Linked DNA regions of Homo sapiens. The protein of the gene in region 2 interacts with the protein of the main gene of each other region in a biochemical or structural test. Each region holds a gene or a part of one and is shown on either strand. Other genes may lie near its edges.

Region 1 (7,458 bases), on a different chromosome or scaffold from region 2:
TGGTGGACAAGCACAGGAGAAACCTTCCACGTGTAAGGCGGGCGGAAGAAGGAAGTAAGACCTCAGCGATGGGATGGAGGGAATCTGAGTCCCTGCCTGCCCTGCCGCAGGCCACTTAGCATGCCTAGTGGGAGAGGGACATGGGGGCAGATGGCACCCCTGTGGATGCCTTCAATGACGAGTAAACAAACCAGACATGGACAGTCATGCAGGTGAGGACAACGGGGCAGTAAGTCTGGAGAGCAGATAGGCCAAACTATGCAAAGCAAGACCATGGAGAGCCTGCCAAATGCTCAGACTGTGTGTCACATTTACATATCCCAGATTCGGATGTGTGGGAACCATGTCATTAACTCCCATTTATCCGCCCTGGTCCCTGAAAATGTGTTGGGGTTTGTTGTTGCTATGATGCCCAGGTGCACCCAAGGTGCTGACCCCGGCTCCCAGATCCTGGCTTTGAGCAGCACCCCAGCCAGTGGCCCAGGTGAATAGCCTTAACCTTTTTGGTAACCCGAGACCAATGACCTGCTGGACCCATGCCCTCTGCCCCACTCCCAGTCAACAAAGGAGTCAGGTTCTGAGACTCACATACGCCTTCGCTCTATTTCCAATCTCTTTTCCAACAATTCCTTGCAGACACCCCTATTCATGCTCTGCCATCAACTTTAACTTCTACCAATACCCCTAAACCAAGTTCCCTGTATTATTTTTCTTGTTTAGTGAGCATTTAGACAATAAAAGGGTTAAAGACAAGTAGAAAGGCTCAGAGAAGTTTATCAGAGGAGGAAATTCTGGCTGTATCACAGGCCCTGCACATACTTAGGTGTGGCCCAAGAAGGACTCTCAGGTCTCGCTAACCCATGCATACCTGTTAGATCTCCAGGGAGCACCTGACCACCTCCCACATGCCAGGACACTTGGCCTCCCCATCCACAGCTTGGACCCACATATGGAAGCACAAGGCTCCTGCCATCCCCAGTGGCCATAGGTCTTGGGGTCACTGCTTTGTTCACAGGCTCTCCTTACTCCAGGAGGAAGACAGATGTGTCCCCCAACGAGGCCAGACCGGGAAAGGATGGTGGCCCCCCCAAGCATTAGCTGCCAGTGCTCCAAAAGGGAATGAGGAGGCCCCACCCAGGGCCCTGACCACTCGCCAGGCTGCTCAGGCATCACCTCACCTCCCATGTGTGTCCAGTGTACGCTGGGGTCGGGGGAGAAGCTCGTGGCTCCTCTGAGCCCACGTCATCCTCTCCCCACTCCCAAGCTTCCTCCCACCTGGCCTGTGCTCACAGGAGACAAGCACGTGACACAACTCCACCTTTAGAAGTTTCTCCTGAGACAGGAGGCCAAGGTAGGCTCTGAGCCACATGCTCTTTGGTAAGCGATTTTTGCTCTGGGCCTTCAATTCTTGCAGAGCTCTTTCATGATGCAGCGTGGGCTCCAGCTTCAAGGAGACGAGCCTGTGCCCTGTGCCTGGGGACCCAGGGTCACCCATCCATGCAGAGTAGGCCACACCCCTGTGGCACCAGCATAAGGACATTTAATCTGAGACATCAAGCTTCAGTGCTTCCCCAAACAAGTCACCTTGGGACAGACTGGCCAATGGCCACGGAGTGCAGCCAAGTTTCTGGTTAGCAAGTGTTTTTGTGTGATGAACTTCAAAAATGGAGAACAATAAACAGAATACTCCCCCTGCCAAGTGTGCTGTCTTGTTTGTCCAGAAAGATGTTGGTAAAAACCAGGGACTGGTCAAGGCTGTGTTTCTGGTGCTCGGTGCCATGCTGTGCCCTCCCCCCGCCCCCTGCCCCGCCACCATACACACACACACACACACACACACACACACACACACACACATACACACACACACAATGCCCAACAGCAAATGGCGATCACAGCCTGGCCCTGCATCAGGAGGGGAACTGAAGCAGTGTGGAGGACACAGGAGCCGGTCACTCTGCTGGGCAGGGCAGCAGGGTGTGAAGGCATAGCCCCTTCACCACAGCCCTAGTTTCAACTGAACAAACTTCATGTCTCCCCCAAAAGCCTGCCTCACAAACAGCTGGTAACATTTGCTGGGGATGAAGACGGACCTAAGATCTAAAACTGAACTAGAAATCAGAAGTTCCACATAGCCACTATGTTCCAGGTGTGGATGCTCCCCCATTCAGCAAGCATGAGCAGGGTGCCACGTCCACTCACACACACACCCATATGTGTTTCTACACATGTACGTGGCTATGGAGGCATACGTGTTTATGGCCAAATGGCAGAGCTTTTGGTTGGGTGAGGATTTCTTCTGTGCCCAGTGCCCGATTGATGCCAAGAGTAAAACAAGTTCGAGTTTCTGTTATTTTGGCCCAGAAGAGTGTCCAAAGCCTTCTGAACTCAGTATCTCCCACCCCGAGGACTGCACTGGTGGCTGTCTCCATGACCCCAACCTCAGCCACACAGCACAGTGGCTGCTTCTGAATTGCCAAGCTGGAGAAAAGTTTATTCCCATCTCGACAGGAAGTTGACTTCTCAAGAAAATAATCCCATTTGGGGCTTTGAAAGGAAAGAAAAGGTCGGGTGTGGTGGCTCATGCCTGTAATCCCAGCACTTTGGGAGGCCGAGGTGGGCAGATCACCTGAGGTCAGGAGTTCGAAACCAGCCTGGCCAACATGGTGAAACCCCGTCTCTACTAAAAATACAAAAATTAGCTGGGCACGGTGGCAGGCGCCTGTAATCCCAGCTACTTGGGAGGCTGAGGCAGGAGAATCACTTGAACCCGGGAGGCGGAGGTTGCAGTGAGCCGAGATTGTGCCATTGCACTCCAGCCTGGGGGACAAGAGCAAGACTTCGTCTCAAAAAAAAAAAAGAAAGAAAGAAAAGAAAAACAGGTTCAGGTGTGTGGACTTAGGACAATTTTTGTTTATTTCTTGAAAGCACATAAAGACTCACCAGGACTTAGAGAGTGTCACCCGCCGTAGGCCCTCCCCAGCCCTAGGAGACAGGCTGCCTGTGGCCACAGGGCCGGCATTCAGGTGGGCTGACCAAGAACACACTCACAGTTACCCTTGAGCTGGCTATTAATACCATCTGGAGCCATTTTCATTCAAAAGAAAATCAGGGTGTCTTGTCTGTTTGGGGAAAGGAGCACCTAGGCCTCCTCCAGGTGGTCCTTTGACTTCAAAAGCCTTCCAAAGCTGAACCCAACCCCCAACATCTCTCCAGTCAAGGAAGCTGGAAGATGGAGTAGAAACCAACCAGGTGGACAGAAGGGGCTGAGCCTGGCCGCCCACCTTAACCATGTGATCCTGCAGTAGGACAGGCTAATATCCCATGCCCTCCCCCCCCCATGAGGCGATGGAAGTGCCCAGTATCACCTGTGCCATATTTTGGACCAAAATTTGTTTAAACCAGACCTGATCACGGGAAACAATCAGACCAATCCACATTGTGAGTTGTTCTACAAGACAACTGGCTTTGGGCCTTCAAATGCCAGCGTAACATAATAAAGGACCAAAAGATGGGAAACTATCCTAAACTAAGGGAAACTAGAGAGGACAACCAAATGCAATGTGTGATTAACTGGATCCTGAATCCTATACTGGACATTTTAGGAATCACTAGGGGAACTGAATATGGACTGCGTATCAGATAATATATAATATTTAAAGAGAGAGGCGAGATGGAAAAGGGAGAAAAATATAGACAAAAAATTAATTTTTCTTTCTTTAGAAAGAAAAAGAGAAGGAGGAAAGGAGAAAAATGTGGCAAAATATTACCCAATGACCCTATGGGAAGAGTATAGGAGTGTTCACTATACTACTCCCTCAACCTTTAAGAAGCAGCAAAAATCTGTGCGGGAAGCCGTGTGCTGGGGACATCCAGATTTCTACTACCACAGGGCCCTGCTCACCTGCAGTGACCTGAAACACTGGTCCAGACAGGAGTGGCAGTAGGACACAGCAGGTACACCCACCTCGGGGGCGGCTGCCCAGGCTCAAGCCCCAGCTCCAATCCCTGTTCCACCCTCACTTACTGTGTGACCTTGGGCATGATTCCTAAAGCACTGGAGCCTTAGCTTCCTTATTTGAAATTTAGTATTAATAATAGAGCCTACTTCATAGGGTCCTTGTGAAGATTAGATAGCTTGATGTAAACTAACACAAACAGAATGATGCCTGGCCCCTAGAGCAAACAGTCTGGAAGTCTTAGGATTGTGAAAGTTGAGTGTACTATTCTAGAAGTTTTTATTTTTAAAACTATTTTAATTGCTTCCTGAAAGCACAAACTGAACACACTTCACAGTGCCATGGTATCTCAAGATCCCTGCTAGAGTGTTCATTATTCCAGGGTCTCTCATGCAGACCTCAGGGATTGCTGCGGAGAAACATGTGCCTCTCCACAAATGGCCCCATGCTTGTTCCAGTGCTGGTTGACTGTAGGGCTTCTTCATGACCCATTTAAACACACACACTTACACATGCATATGTTAACAACCTGCTGGTTTGTTTCTTCCCCTGCCTTTAGCTGCCATCCATGTCTTTTGCCCTTCCCCAGTAACCAATCAGATTAAAGCTATGTGTAAAGTGGGAGCACACAGGATCTAAGGGCAGGAGGCTGTCAGAAGCTTGAGAATTGGGCTTCAGGGCACCTACTCAGAAGGATCAGGCCCCCATCTCTGCTGTGTTCCAGACATGTGAAGCCCCAGACACAGGCTACTGGTTTAATGAACTGCGTCCTATCAGTTTGCTCAGGCAGCACAGCTTCCAGCCTTCTTTCAGCGAGGGGGAAGGGGGGAGTGGAGATGGCGCCACACCAGCCCCCATCCTACTGCTCCAGGGCTGAGCGCCCACCACACACTTTCCAATCTCTGTAAAACCAGAACTGAAGATGGCCAAGAGAGCCAGCCACCAGGCGTGCGGGAGTGACAGTGGTTTTGCTGGTACTGTTTTAAACGTTCTCAATGTTCTCACACATGCAAAAGGAGAATTGGGAGAAGGAAACATTTTCAAGAAGGTGGAGTCGTGACACAATAGGTCTCTCCCTCAGAGCGGGGACTAACAAGTGTGGTCTCTTTCCTTGAAAAACATAACACAGTAACTCCACAACACATTTAACCAACACTTATCAACCCTGTCAATACCACCACTAGGTCTCAATCCTACAGAAATGCCAGCTCCTCTGCACCAAGACACACACACACCAGAGTCCACTACTACACAACTTGTAATAGCAGAAAAAACAAAAAAAAGGCAATGTAGCTGTCCTTTCCATAAGTGAAGGGTAAATAAGTTACAATGCAGCCATATAACCACATCTTGGAATACCATGCGGCTGTGAAAAAGAATGAAGATGCCTCATTTAAGCAAACACATGGAACAAAATGCCAGCAGTGAGATACTTGCTAGGATCCTATTTAAGTATGTTTCAAAATGTCTACGTGGACACACACATATGCATATGTGCAAATCCATCTAGAAGGTCTGTAAAGAAAAACACCAACGCGGGGTAACAGTGGTTTGGTGGTGGTGCAGGCTGGCACCTCCCATGCTGCATACATTTCTGCATTGTTTGAGGAGTTTCACAACTAGGGCCACTGGCAGCCTGGGACAGCGAGGGTACGAGAGGGAGGGGTGGGCGTGCTGAGCCACTGGCCTGTGTGTGTCTCTGAACAAAGCACAGGCCACCAACAAGCCTGGCTTTGCCCTGGGTAAAGGAGATCCCACCCAGATGCCCTCTGCTCTGCCAGATGCCCTCTGCTCTGCTTTCCCAGGCAGCAGCATCAGGGAGGACCTGCAGGGAGCCCAAGGGGCGGTGTGCTTGGAAACAAGTCTCTAAAGCCAGAGTGTGCCCTGGGGGAGGGGTCGCAATAATCTGTCAGGATCAAATCCTTGCTTCAGTGGGTAAAGATAAATTTCAGGTGAACCCCACCCAAATTATCACAGGAAATGGCTGACAGAATGTGATCTTACTCTACTTCCCTCCTCCACCCCAAACAGGGCCAGGTGACCACAAACATGCCTCGGGTTCTGCAGGAGGGAAGGCTGGGCACGCCACTGTGCCCACCTTTCCATGGGACCCCCAGAACCCAGAAAGGGCCCAGCATGCAGAGAGATGTTTTGACTCCAGCGCTGGAGGGAAAACAGGGCACAGAGCAGTTTTGAAAACAATTCTCTGTGGGAACAAATAGGTAGAAATGTATTCAGGGTCTCTCTGCCAAGAAAGACCAAGTGGCCATTCTGCTGGGGGCCTGCCAAGTCTCCCCATTCAGGACAACACGCAGGACTCTCCAGAGGCAGGATCTGGGCAACCAGTCTGCCCTCAAGAGGGCCCCAGCCTGACCTATCGAAGGTGAGTCCTTGAATTCCTGCATCAAAGCACCTCAGGTTCCAAGAAAATCTGCTCCTGGTCTTGCTGCTCCCCTAAGCCCCTCTTAGCAAACTTTCCAGGTCTGGACTCGGAAGTTCTAATTGGCCAAATAATAAAGTAGCACGAGCTGCAAAGATGTTTTTCTTGGTTTTGTGTTATTACGCATTGTTATAATATCAACAATTACCTAAATGTGACAGAGACCAATGTGTCCACAGGATAACTCCTGGAAGAGTGGGAGTGGGAAACCACACTGCTACACAGCTAACCAGGACAGAAAGCTCTTAGCATGCAGCTGTTCAGAGAGTGGGGGTGGAAAATCAGAGCAGAGCCACGGCCAAGGGACCACAAGTGCCTCCAGAGTCAAGGCTGACCCTTGCACTTCTCAAAGGGTCTTCACATACTTGACCTCATGTCCCTGAAGACTTTGCAGGTGGTCAGGGCAGACATCACCAAGTTGCAGGGAGATCTGGGAACCGGTCCCTGGTCACATAGAGGAACAGCACAGAGCAGCTGGCCACCTTCCTGGTTGTGATATTCACCCTCTGCCATGAAATTACTGTGGATCCTGGAAATGCGGGAAGTGGGGCGGGGGCACCTTCCCGAGCCTAATGGAGTACGGGGCCCGGCATGACCTCAGTCACTGACTGCAGAGACCCCACAATGCTGCTAGAGGCCCACAAACCACGGACACCTCAGAGCCCACGGCTGCAGCAAAGCCATCACCTTGTGCCCTGCCTTCTCAGTCATCCCTGAGGCCTGCCTGGGTTTCTCCCTTCTGCAAGATGCTCTTTTCTCCCCCAACAGCAAGCTCCTCTTCTCCCTTGAGGAACACCAGTTACTTATGCTCTGCACACCTGGGAAGGGGCTGGAAATGGGCTTCCCAGGGGTGCCCTCCACCAGATGCTGAACCAGACTCCCTCCAGAGGCAGGTTTCTGGGCAGTTCAACTCTCATAATGGGTCACCTGGGGTACCGGTAACATGCACTCCCAACTGCACGCTGGAACTGTGTGTACTAGGTCGGCATCAGGGGCCCGGAAATCTGCATTCTTCCCAACTCCCCGCCACCCCGCTGCCGGAGCCCTGTGCACTTCCAA
Region 2 (9,980 bases):
CAAAAATTAGCTGGGCGTGGTGGCGGGCCCCTGTAATCCCAGTTACTGGGGAGGCTGAGGTGGGAGAATCGTCTGAACCCGGGAGGTGGAGGTTGCAGTGAGCCCAGATCACGCCATTGTACTCCAGCCAAGGAGGCAGGGCAAGACTCTGTCTCAAAACAAAAAACAAACAAACAAACAAAAAACAAACCAAGATCCAACTATATGTCTACAGGAGACACATTTTAGAGTCAATGATACAAAGCATGTAAATAGTAATCACGTGAGAACTGAAATAGCTACATTAATATCAGACAAAATAGACTTTAAAACAATGTTACTAGAGAAAAAGAGAAACATTTTTAATGATAAAAGGATAAACCCACAAGGAAGATGTAACAATTTACAAGGATAGATGCACCTAGTAACAGAATATATGTAGCAAAAACTGACAGAAATGAAGGGACAAATTGATACCTCAAGAACAGAAGATTAAGTCTTTCATACTCCTGTTCCAACTAGTTAGACTCCACAACAGGTAACATGACTGAAACAGAACTCTATTTAGTTTCCCCCAACTTTCAGTCTCTATCTTGGTAAGTAGCAACTGTATCTGTTTAACTGCCCAAACCAAAATTCTTTAAGTCACTTTCTCTTGAATTCCACATCCCATCAATCAGTGAATCCTATAACTTCTCCCTTCAAAATATATCCAGAACCCAATCATTTTTCCCTACTTACACCCTGATCGAAACTAACACCATCTCTCACAGAGATTACTTAAATACTCTCCTAATTGGATTGCATCTTCCTCCCCTGGTCCCTTGCAGTCTATCTCCATATGGCAGCCAAATGAGCCTTCTAAAACAAATCAGGTCACTCCTCAACCCTGAACTTACTCTGTCCAGTAAACTTTTTTTTCAAAATAATTATTTTTATTTTTATTTTATAGAGATAGGGTTTCCCTATGTTGCCCAGGCTGGCTCGAACTCCTGGGCTTAAGGGATCTTTCCACTTCAGCCTCCCAAAGTGACACAATTACAGGCCTGAGCCACTATGCCCAACCTGTCCAGTACACTTTCAGTGAAATCTAAATCCTACAAACTCCCTTTCCTGCATTACTTCCTACTCCCTTAATCACCCTACTCTCATCGCACTGGCCTCTGCCATTTTCAGCAAGTTGATAAACCCAATTTATAATATAATTCTATTTTTAGAAAACACTACAGGCCCAGCACGGTGGCTCATGCCTGTAATCCCAGCACTTTGGGAGGCTGAGGCGAGTGGATCACGAGGTCAGGAGTTCGAGACCAGCCTGGCCAAGATGGTGAAACCCCGTCTCTACTAAAAATATAAAAATTAGCCGGGCGCAGCGGCGGGCGCCTGTAATCCCAGCTACTCGGGAGGCTGAGGCAGGAGAATTGCTTGAACCCGTGAGGCGGAGGTTGCAGTGAGCCGAGGTCGCACCATTGCACCCTAGCCTGAGCAACAGAGCAAGACTCCGTTTCAAAAAATAAAAATAAAATAAAATAAAATAAAACCACTACATATATATGCATAAAAAAGGATTGCCCAAAATGTGACTATTCACCTACGGTTAGCAGGATTATAAATTTTAATTTTTAAAAAGTTTTTCCTATTGTGAAAAATTATTTCTAATTCATGTGTTACTTATAATAAAGTATATGAAAAGCTGTGTATCAAACACACAATATATTGTATAAAATATATGAAAAGCTGTGGATCAAACCCCATACCCCTACTGTGGTTAATAGTATTTAAGTATATTCAAAATCTGGAAATAAATCATACATGTCACCAAAAAACCACAACAAAAGAAAAATTTGCCTGCAGTAATACAGCATTTACTAACAATACATGCTGCAGGCACTTCCACTCATTATTTCATCTTACTCTCATAATAATTCTATGCAATCAGAACCATTATCCCCATGTTACTGTGTAAAATGAGGCTCAAAAAAGTTAAACTCTTTGAAATTGCACAGTAAGTTGTGAAGCCCAGGTCTGCCTGACTTGAATGCTCACGTTCTAAATACTAATCTAGCTACTGCCTCATCACATAGTAGTTACAAGCAACAGTGCAAAGTTGAAATAACCTAGACATACAATAACAAAGGAAAAAGAGTGTAGTTATAAAAATGCTTACTGAAACTAGAATTATGTATGTAAAAATTGGGAGACATGTTACATGAAAGAGCAAACTATCATATTCTACACGTGAGTACAAGAAAATTTAACATTTCATATGGAAAAAAGCCAAAATAAACCAATATATTCAAGTTGGTTCAGTGTGGGTAATGGAACTCTGGGTGATTTTCATTGTTTTGCTTTGTTATCCTTTGGTTTGCACCAAAATTGCTTCAATACTAACAACAAAAACAACAAAAACAAATTACGTTCTCATAAACTTTGTTTTGTAACAAAGGAAAATTCTGCCCAGTGTTCCAAACACCTCAAAGTTCCAAGTCTAGGTCTAAACCAGAGTCGTTAAGTATTCTCTGAAAAGCGATCTACTCTTAATTGACATCTGGCGACTCTACATGGACCAATGGCTTCCTCCGCAGGATGTTATGATCTTTATTTTGTTTGTAGCCTACGGAAGAATGAGCCTATTAAGAGCTTATTGAGATTGATGATTGCACAGTGTAGCTTGAAAGGTCCAAATTTAATCCGTTTCAACGGGAGGAACAAAATTCAAAACTGTTTTCAAAGTATTTCGAGAATGTGTCCCTTATCTGGAAGTAATACTTAAAACGAAGCAAACAAAGACGGTAAGAGAAAGTCACAAATGCAAGCTCGCGCCCGAAGCCAGCCTCGGGCAGGTACACTTTGGTGTGGTGTGGCGGCGGCAGGGCGCCAAGCGCCGTGGTTTTTACGGTCTCGTCAGCAAGCAGGGCCGACCTCCGCTTTATCGGACAGGACCAACGCAGGATCCGGGGCGCGGCGGCGACAGGGCCCCGAGGCAGATGCCCGAGCTAGAACTCTGGCGCCTACTTACTCCTCGGCCGGCCCGGCTGCTCCGAAAAACGACCTCACAGGAATGGCTGCAAGAGCGCCGCCGCCGGCAGGGGCTGAGGAGAACGAGCCTGGGGCTCCGGGCCCAGAGATGAGACGCTCTGGCTGGGAAGCAAGGAGCATCGGCACCGACGGATAGAGGCCGGTGGCCCTCAGGTTGAGCAGGCGGCTTCGGGGCGGGGAGAGAAGGGACCAAGGCCCACCGCAGGCCTCAGATCCTCCCACGCCTCCCCGCTGCTACCCAACGATGACGCAAGTACGCATGCGCCTCCCCAGCTGCCGCTGGGAAGAGCGCGCTCCCCAGGGCCCCGCCCCCTCCAAGGATTTCCGGGGAGGCGGGTTCCACTGCTGACTTACCGGTTTTACTCCTCTGCTCAAAAGGCGCCTGCCCGAGGCCGCTTTCCGTTGCAAAGGTTCCTGAATTTGGGGAGGAAGAGCAGCAAGACTGAAATATTGGGCATACGTTTGTTGCTTCATAAACGTTTGCTGAATGAATAAACTGATACGCCGATGTTTGCTTTAATTGTAACTCCCCCTGCCGCAGTTCCCAGTCTTTGAAAATTACAACAGCAACATAGTTTTGGGCGTGTCCTTGACAAATGTGTTTCATTCCCCAGGTAGTACCGTGCAAGTGAACTTGGTGAGAATTTTTTCAAGGAAATTTTTGCCAGCATCGATTTTTGAAACTTAGTTTTTACCATGCTCTTTAAAAAAATAAACACTTGGTTTGTTCAAATACCAACTTTAGTCACACAATCTGGCTTCAGCACCTATTGTTCGGGCCCCATATATCGTTCTCCACACTTAGGATGCTTCATCTCCACATAAAGCATAACTGCAAAATACACAGGGCAGAAGGAGACCTGGGAGATAATACTATGGTTGCAGAAATTAAGACCAGCCTGAGCTCTCGACAACAAGAAAGAGACACAGCGAAAACAAGGCATTTATTTATAATAGGCTCTTGCAAGCAAGGAAAAATAAGGCATTTTCTGATTCGAACGTAGTGCTCTATTACCCCTACTCAACAAACATTTGAATGCCAAAGAGCTGTGAGGGTGGATGCTTAACAAGCAGATGCTAAGCGAGGTTATATTTTTGTAGGAAGCAGCCTGATAAGAAAAGAGCAGATTTTCGAGTCAGATTTTAGTTCAAAAATCAGCTTTGTACTTGGGAACTCAATCATAAGCAAATTACCTTACCTCTTAGTGTCGGTTTGTTCATGTGTAAAACGTGTTAATAGTACCTGACCCAATCTCTTGCCTTCAAGTATATCACTCTATTTCCAAGATGAGATCTCTCACAGTTCTACTACGTACACCGTTAATTTTAACATTATTTAAAAATAGTTTACTAAGTTTATTTCATTTATTTATTTGAGACGGCGTTTTTGCTTTTGTTGCCCAGGCTGGAGTGCAATGGCGCGATCTCGGCCTCCCGGGTTCAAGCGATTCTCTTGCCTCAGCCTCCCGAGTAGCTGAGACTACAGGCGCCACCACGCCGGCTAATTTTTTGTATTTTTAGCAGAGACGGAGTTTCGCTATGTTGGCCAGGCTGGACTCGAACTCTTGAGTTCAGGCAATCCGCCCGCCTCGGCCTCCCAAAGTGCTAGAGGATTGCAGGCGTGAGCCACCGCGCCCGGCCCTAACATTTCAAAACGTTTGGAATTCAGGCAACAAGAGACATTTTGTAAGAACATTTAAAACCCTTCTCCCCTGGAAATCAAGAGATATGTATGGAGTCTGGAGATTCCGAACTCAATTTTCTAGGACAAAGGCAAACTCAGATGATTACAAGAATGAAAGTGATCGTCACGCTGCTTCCAGGTTCCAAAGTATGGATAATTTTTTTTTTTTTTTTGAGATGGAATCTTGCTCTGTCGCCCAGGCTGGAGTGCAGTGGCGTGATCTCAGTGCAAACTCCGCCTCTCGGGTTCAAGCGATTCTCCTGCCTCAGCCTCCGGAGTAGCTGGGATTATAGGCGAGCGCCACCACGCCCAGCTAATTTTTTGTATTTTTAATAGAGACGGGGTTTCACCATGTTGGCCAGGCTGGTCTCCAAATCCTGGCCTCAGGTGATCCGCCCGCCTCGGCCTCCCAAGGTGCTGGGATTACAGGGGTGAGCCACAGCGCCAGGCGAGAAATATTTTTTTAAAGAGGAATTAAAGAACCTAATTGGTTTTGAGAGTTCTCCAAGAGCCAGTAAATGTTTTCCCCACAATATTCCATTCTACCCCATTACTGTAGAGTCGTTATAGAAGAAAACAAAATCACATAACGCAACTTGGGCCAAAAAACATTACACGTTCCAATTACGGAAATAACGAACTGAATCGTGTCACCCTTGAACTATGTAAAAGTTGAAAAGATGTTCAGTGTTAAATGTAGTAACAGTTCCACATTAAAAGATATTTACGTTCGAGTTTACAGTATTTAAAAATGCCTTTCTACACACTTTCCCGGGAAGTTAATGCCACTTCAGTTGAGCTGTCTAGCGAGATGGTTAAGCATTTACTGTGTCTCTAACACCGACCAGGGGAAAAATCATCAATTCGTTTGCCCGAGTTTAAGAGAATTTTCACCTAACTTCTAATCTCCACAGCCAATCAGTTCTTGGAACCGCACACCCGATGCCGACATCCCTCTCTTGTTGGCTCCCCTCGTTAGCGGGATTCAATAACTAAACGTCCATTTCTAGCATTGACTGAAGAGCTCAAGCTTGACACTCGACCTCAATCCTTAGCAGCACCGCCCACCATGCTCCCGGAAGCTGCGACACTACGCCCTGCGCTAGTCCCGGGACGTGGGGTTTTATATCCGGATTCTTAGCGCGGACTCAGAACCCAGCTCTTCCCTACACGGTCGGCACATGCGCGGCAGCTCTTTTCCTTCTTCCTCCACTTCCCCTACCCTCCACCGTCCGGGAGCCGCCGCCACCGCCGCCGAGGAGTCAGGAAGTTCAAGATGGCCGCCGCGGAGACCCAGTCGCTACGGGAGCAGCCAGAGTAAGTAGTCTCTGTGAGTGGGCCAGAAGCTGGAGCCCGGGGACTGCCGAGTGGGAGCTGCACGGGGTGGCGGGAAAGTTCGGGCCTAACGGCGAGAGTCAAACTTTGCTTTTTCCGGCGCGATTCGTTGTGGGGTGGGAGGCATGGGGAGCAGGCGGCCTTCGAGCTTCCTTCTCCCAGAGGCCGTGGCTGCTGGGGTGAAGGCGGCCGCGGCCTGCCGCGCGTCGTTGCCCCGGGAGGCGTAGGCGCGAGCGGCCTCTACAGGTCCGGTGCGCGTGGCGGCTGCCGCGGCAGTGAGGTCGCGCTTTCCTATGCCTCTTTTGGGGACCCATCTGAGCTCCCTGGCCGCAGCTCTTAGCGGCATCTGTGTTGGGGACACGAGGGTCAGTGGCAGCAGGCGGGCCAAGCCCTAAGTCTTTTCTTCCTCATGCGGTACCCCCAGTCGTCCTTTTACTGGTGTCAGTTTAGGACCTGAAAGCAGAGAGCGGAGGTGCTGGGGTCACACTCTCTGGCCATCCCAGAGCTAGTCTGTGGCTAGCGGGATACTTGATCTCGTCACCTTGTACTCTTTAGTCCAGCAGTCACCCAGTATTGTTTTGTTTTGTTTTGAGTGCCTACCGGCAGCTTTTTTACCAACTTGCAAACTTGAGGCAAAGTAAGATAGAGTCTTTGGTTTTGAGGCCTGGCATTTTTTTTTTTTTTTTTTTTTTGCCTGAGTTTATAACCCTTCTTTAGGAGGACGAGTGGAAGGAGTAGTGGGAATTGCTAGCTACTGCCAAACCACTTTATGTCTATAATTAAGCTAACATTAAGAATCCATGCGGCCAAATGAAAAATGAAAAAAAAAAAAATACGAGTGTATGCTGCAAAGGTTAACCATTGGTTAACTTAAAGCAGTATTTTGCTGTTCATGTCTATGTTAGGAAAACTCAAACAAGAACCTTAACAGAGAGAATGGATTTTACGGCAATGTTCCTATAGCGACCGTTTTTTTTTTTTGTTTTGTTTTTTGTTTTTTTTTGCATCTGCACTGTCTGATCTGTTTCCAGCCATCTTAGAAAGAGGTATAGTCTCCCAGCAACTTGTGACTGAGCGATAGAAGAAATCTTTGCCACCAGACAACCTGACACTTAATTGCTGTGCATCCAGTTTTGGGCTCCTCAATCATCTGCATTACTCAGCTAGGCAGAGAAACGGAATTTTTAATTAAGGGCTTTTCAAAACTGCTGTATTATTTTTACAATTTGACTTAGCAGAGAACAAATGGATTCTGAAGTTTTAAATTAGCTTTAACCTCTTACTGTTTCTCACCAAGTTCATTGTGTGGCACAATTACAGTGTTTATGCCAGTACCGTGCAGATCTCATGCTATGTGGTTACATTTTCTACTAATCTGAAAAGTTCTGTAATATTATGTCCATTTATTTGATTTTAGGGATGTTTCAGATTCATTTCCAGGAGTGGGTCAGCCATAGTTTATTCACATACTGTATTCAAATAATATTAGACTTAATAATTTCAAAAATACATATTTAGGCCTCTGCTGTATGAGTAACAGAGATAATCTTTAATTTCCCTTCCCTTCCCCACAGAGCACTTGGTGTAAATGGAATATTTGGTCTGTATATGTCTCACTTTCAGTAGTTTGAAAGTATTTAACAAAGAAGATAACCATTTGGTATGAAAGCAAACTATGCCTGGTGCTCATAGTGAGTCCCTGAATATAGTGTCTACAACAGTTCTTTAGAGAACACTGAGTAGTTTACAGTTATATAGAATCTATTCAAAACAGAAAATTTAGAAAGAATAAATATAAGAAGCAGCTTTTAAGCTCCCTGAAGGCTTTAATTCTTTTAACAACCCTATGGAGGTAGATACGTTTATTTTCCTTATTTTAGAGATGATGAAACTGAAACACAGAGAAATTAAGTAACTTGCTCAAGGTCACACTCAGTGGCACACCCATTTAAACTCAGGCAGTCTGGTTCTAAAGCCCTGCTGCTAACTATTGTACTGTCTGGCCTCCCACTATACAATGTGGCTTCTTTTTAAATTGCTTGTCAAGTATGAAATTATTTTTGTTTTTTTCCACTGTCCCAGAAAGATACATTTTTTGATGTGACATGTCTAATTTATTGAGAACTAATTTCTCAAACCTGATTTGGCAAAGCAGAGACCAGAGGGAATGTTTTAAGACTAGTTGGTCTTTTGGACCCATTCTGATTTTTATAGCTACATTAATTCTTTTTGTTCATTTTATTTATTTTTGAAACACGAGCTCTTGTCACCCAGACTGGAGTACAGTAACATTATCATGGCTCATTGTAGCCTCAGCCTCAAGTGATCCTCCTACTCCAGCCTCCGGAGTAGCTGGGACCACAGGCATATGACACCATGCCCAGCTAATTTTTTTTTTTTTGAGACGGAGTTTCACTTTCTCTCCAGGCTAGATTGCAGTGGTGCGATCTTGGCTCACTGAAACCTTGGACTCCCTGGTTCAAGCAGTTCTCCTGCCTCAGCCTCCCGAGTAGCTGGGATTACAGGCACGTACCACCACGCCCAGCTAATTTTTGTATTTTTAGTAGAGATGGGGTTTCACCTTGTTGGCCAGGATGGTCCCGATCTCCTGACCTCGTGATCCGCCCACCTCAGACTCCCAAAGTTCTGGGATTACAGGCGTGAGCTACCGTGCCGAGCCATGCCTAGCTAATTTTTAAGTATTTTTGTAGAGGCAGAGTCTTCCCATGTTGCCCAGGCTGTTCTTGAACTACTGGGCTCAAGTGCTGCAGGTACTAGGGAGTCTGAGGCAGGAGGATCATTTGAGCCTAGGAGTTTGAATCTAGCCCAGGCAACATAGTGAGACCCAGTTTCTTAAAAGATATATACATTTTAACTTGTCAGAGAAATAGGCTTAATTACTTTCCTGGTAAATAGCAGTGGCGTTCACTTTGCTCGCCACTAAAAAAAAATTTAAAGAATTGTCTAGCTTAAAAACGGCTTTATTCATACACAAATTTAAATCAGTCAGTTCTCTGTGTCTCTGTATATTTTGAATGCCTACCAAATAAATTCACTAAGACTATTGTTTGGAAAAAAATGTGAAAGAAGAAGTTAAAATAACACTGGTGGTTGGTGATTGGTGACTATTTTATTTTTTTGAGACCGAGTCTCTGTTGCCCAGGCTGGAGTGCAGTAGCGCAATCTTGGCTCACTGCAACCTCTGCGTCCCAGGTTCAAGTGATTCTCCTGTCTCTGTCTCCCGAGTAGCTGGGATTACAGGCACGCACCACCATGCCGTGCTAATTTTTGTATTTTTAGTAGAGACGGGATTTCACCATATTGGCCAGGCTGGTCTCAAACTCCTGACCTCAGGTGATCCGCCAGTCTCAGCCTCCCAAAAGTGTTGGGATTACAGTCATAAGCCACTGCACCTGACCGTGACTATGTTATTTTAAAGGCGTTCCACGATTTTCATTCATTGTGCTGGGTGCCTCAAGACATGGGTTTTTTAAAAGGTAAAACTTAACAAAACAAATAAATACTGTTAAGCAACCCCATGTTGTCTGCACTTCTCATTCACCTTTGCTTCCAAATAATGTGATCTGAAGAATGTTATCCAATATTCAATAGGTTCTCAATAAATATTTTGTGATAAACCTGTTGTGACCAGGTTGGTATACACATCCACTTGGCTAAATGTGGGATATTAAATTGTAAAATGTTAATGTTAAAGCGTAAATTTATATAAATGAAATATATATGGCCTATATTTATTGTCAGTATAAACTATCCAAGAGGGCCGTTAGGTTTCTTAACAAGAAACCTTTTTCTTGAGCTTTAGAAGAAAGTCGTTGATGATAAAGCTAATTTAGCTGTTTTAGCACAGGCCCATTGTATGTAATACATTATGCCATTGACTCAATGTTTCAAGTTTTCCAGATTGACCTGGTCAGACTTTAGT

The links.
Region 1: of the proteins of PRP4K (region 2) and KLF13, one has a biochemical effect on the other in vitro, tested with the Homo sapiens proteins (one study listed by IntAct).

The regions. Positions count from the first base shown.
Region 1 is NC_000015.10:31,329,835-31,337,292, reverse strand, and holds part of KLF13 (Krueppel-like factor 13), read right to left. Parts: intron 1-7,458. UniProt on the Homo sapiens protein: Transcription factor that activates expression from GC-rich minimal promoter regions, including genes in the cells of the erythroid lineage. Represses transcription by binding to the BTE site, a GC-rich DNA element, in competition with the activator SP1.
Region 2 is NC_000006.12:4,015,448-4,025,427, forward strand, and holds the start of PRP4K (serine/threonine-protein kinase PRP4 homolog), read left to right. Parts: upstream 1-5,852; 5' UTR 5,853-5,978; coding exon 5,979-6,019; intron 6,020-9,980. UniProt on the Homo sapiens protein: Serine/threonine kinase involved in spliceosomal assembly as well as mitosis and signaling regulation. Connects chromatin mediated regulation of transcription and pre-mRNA splicing.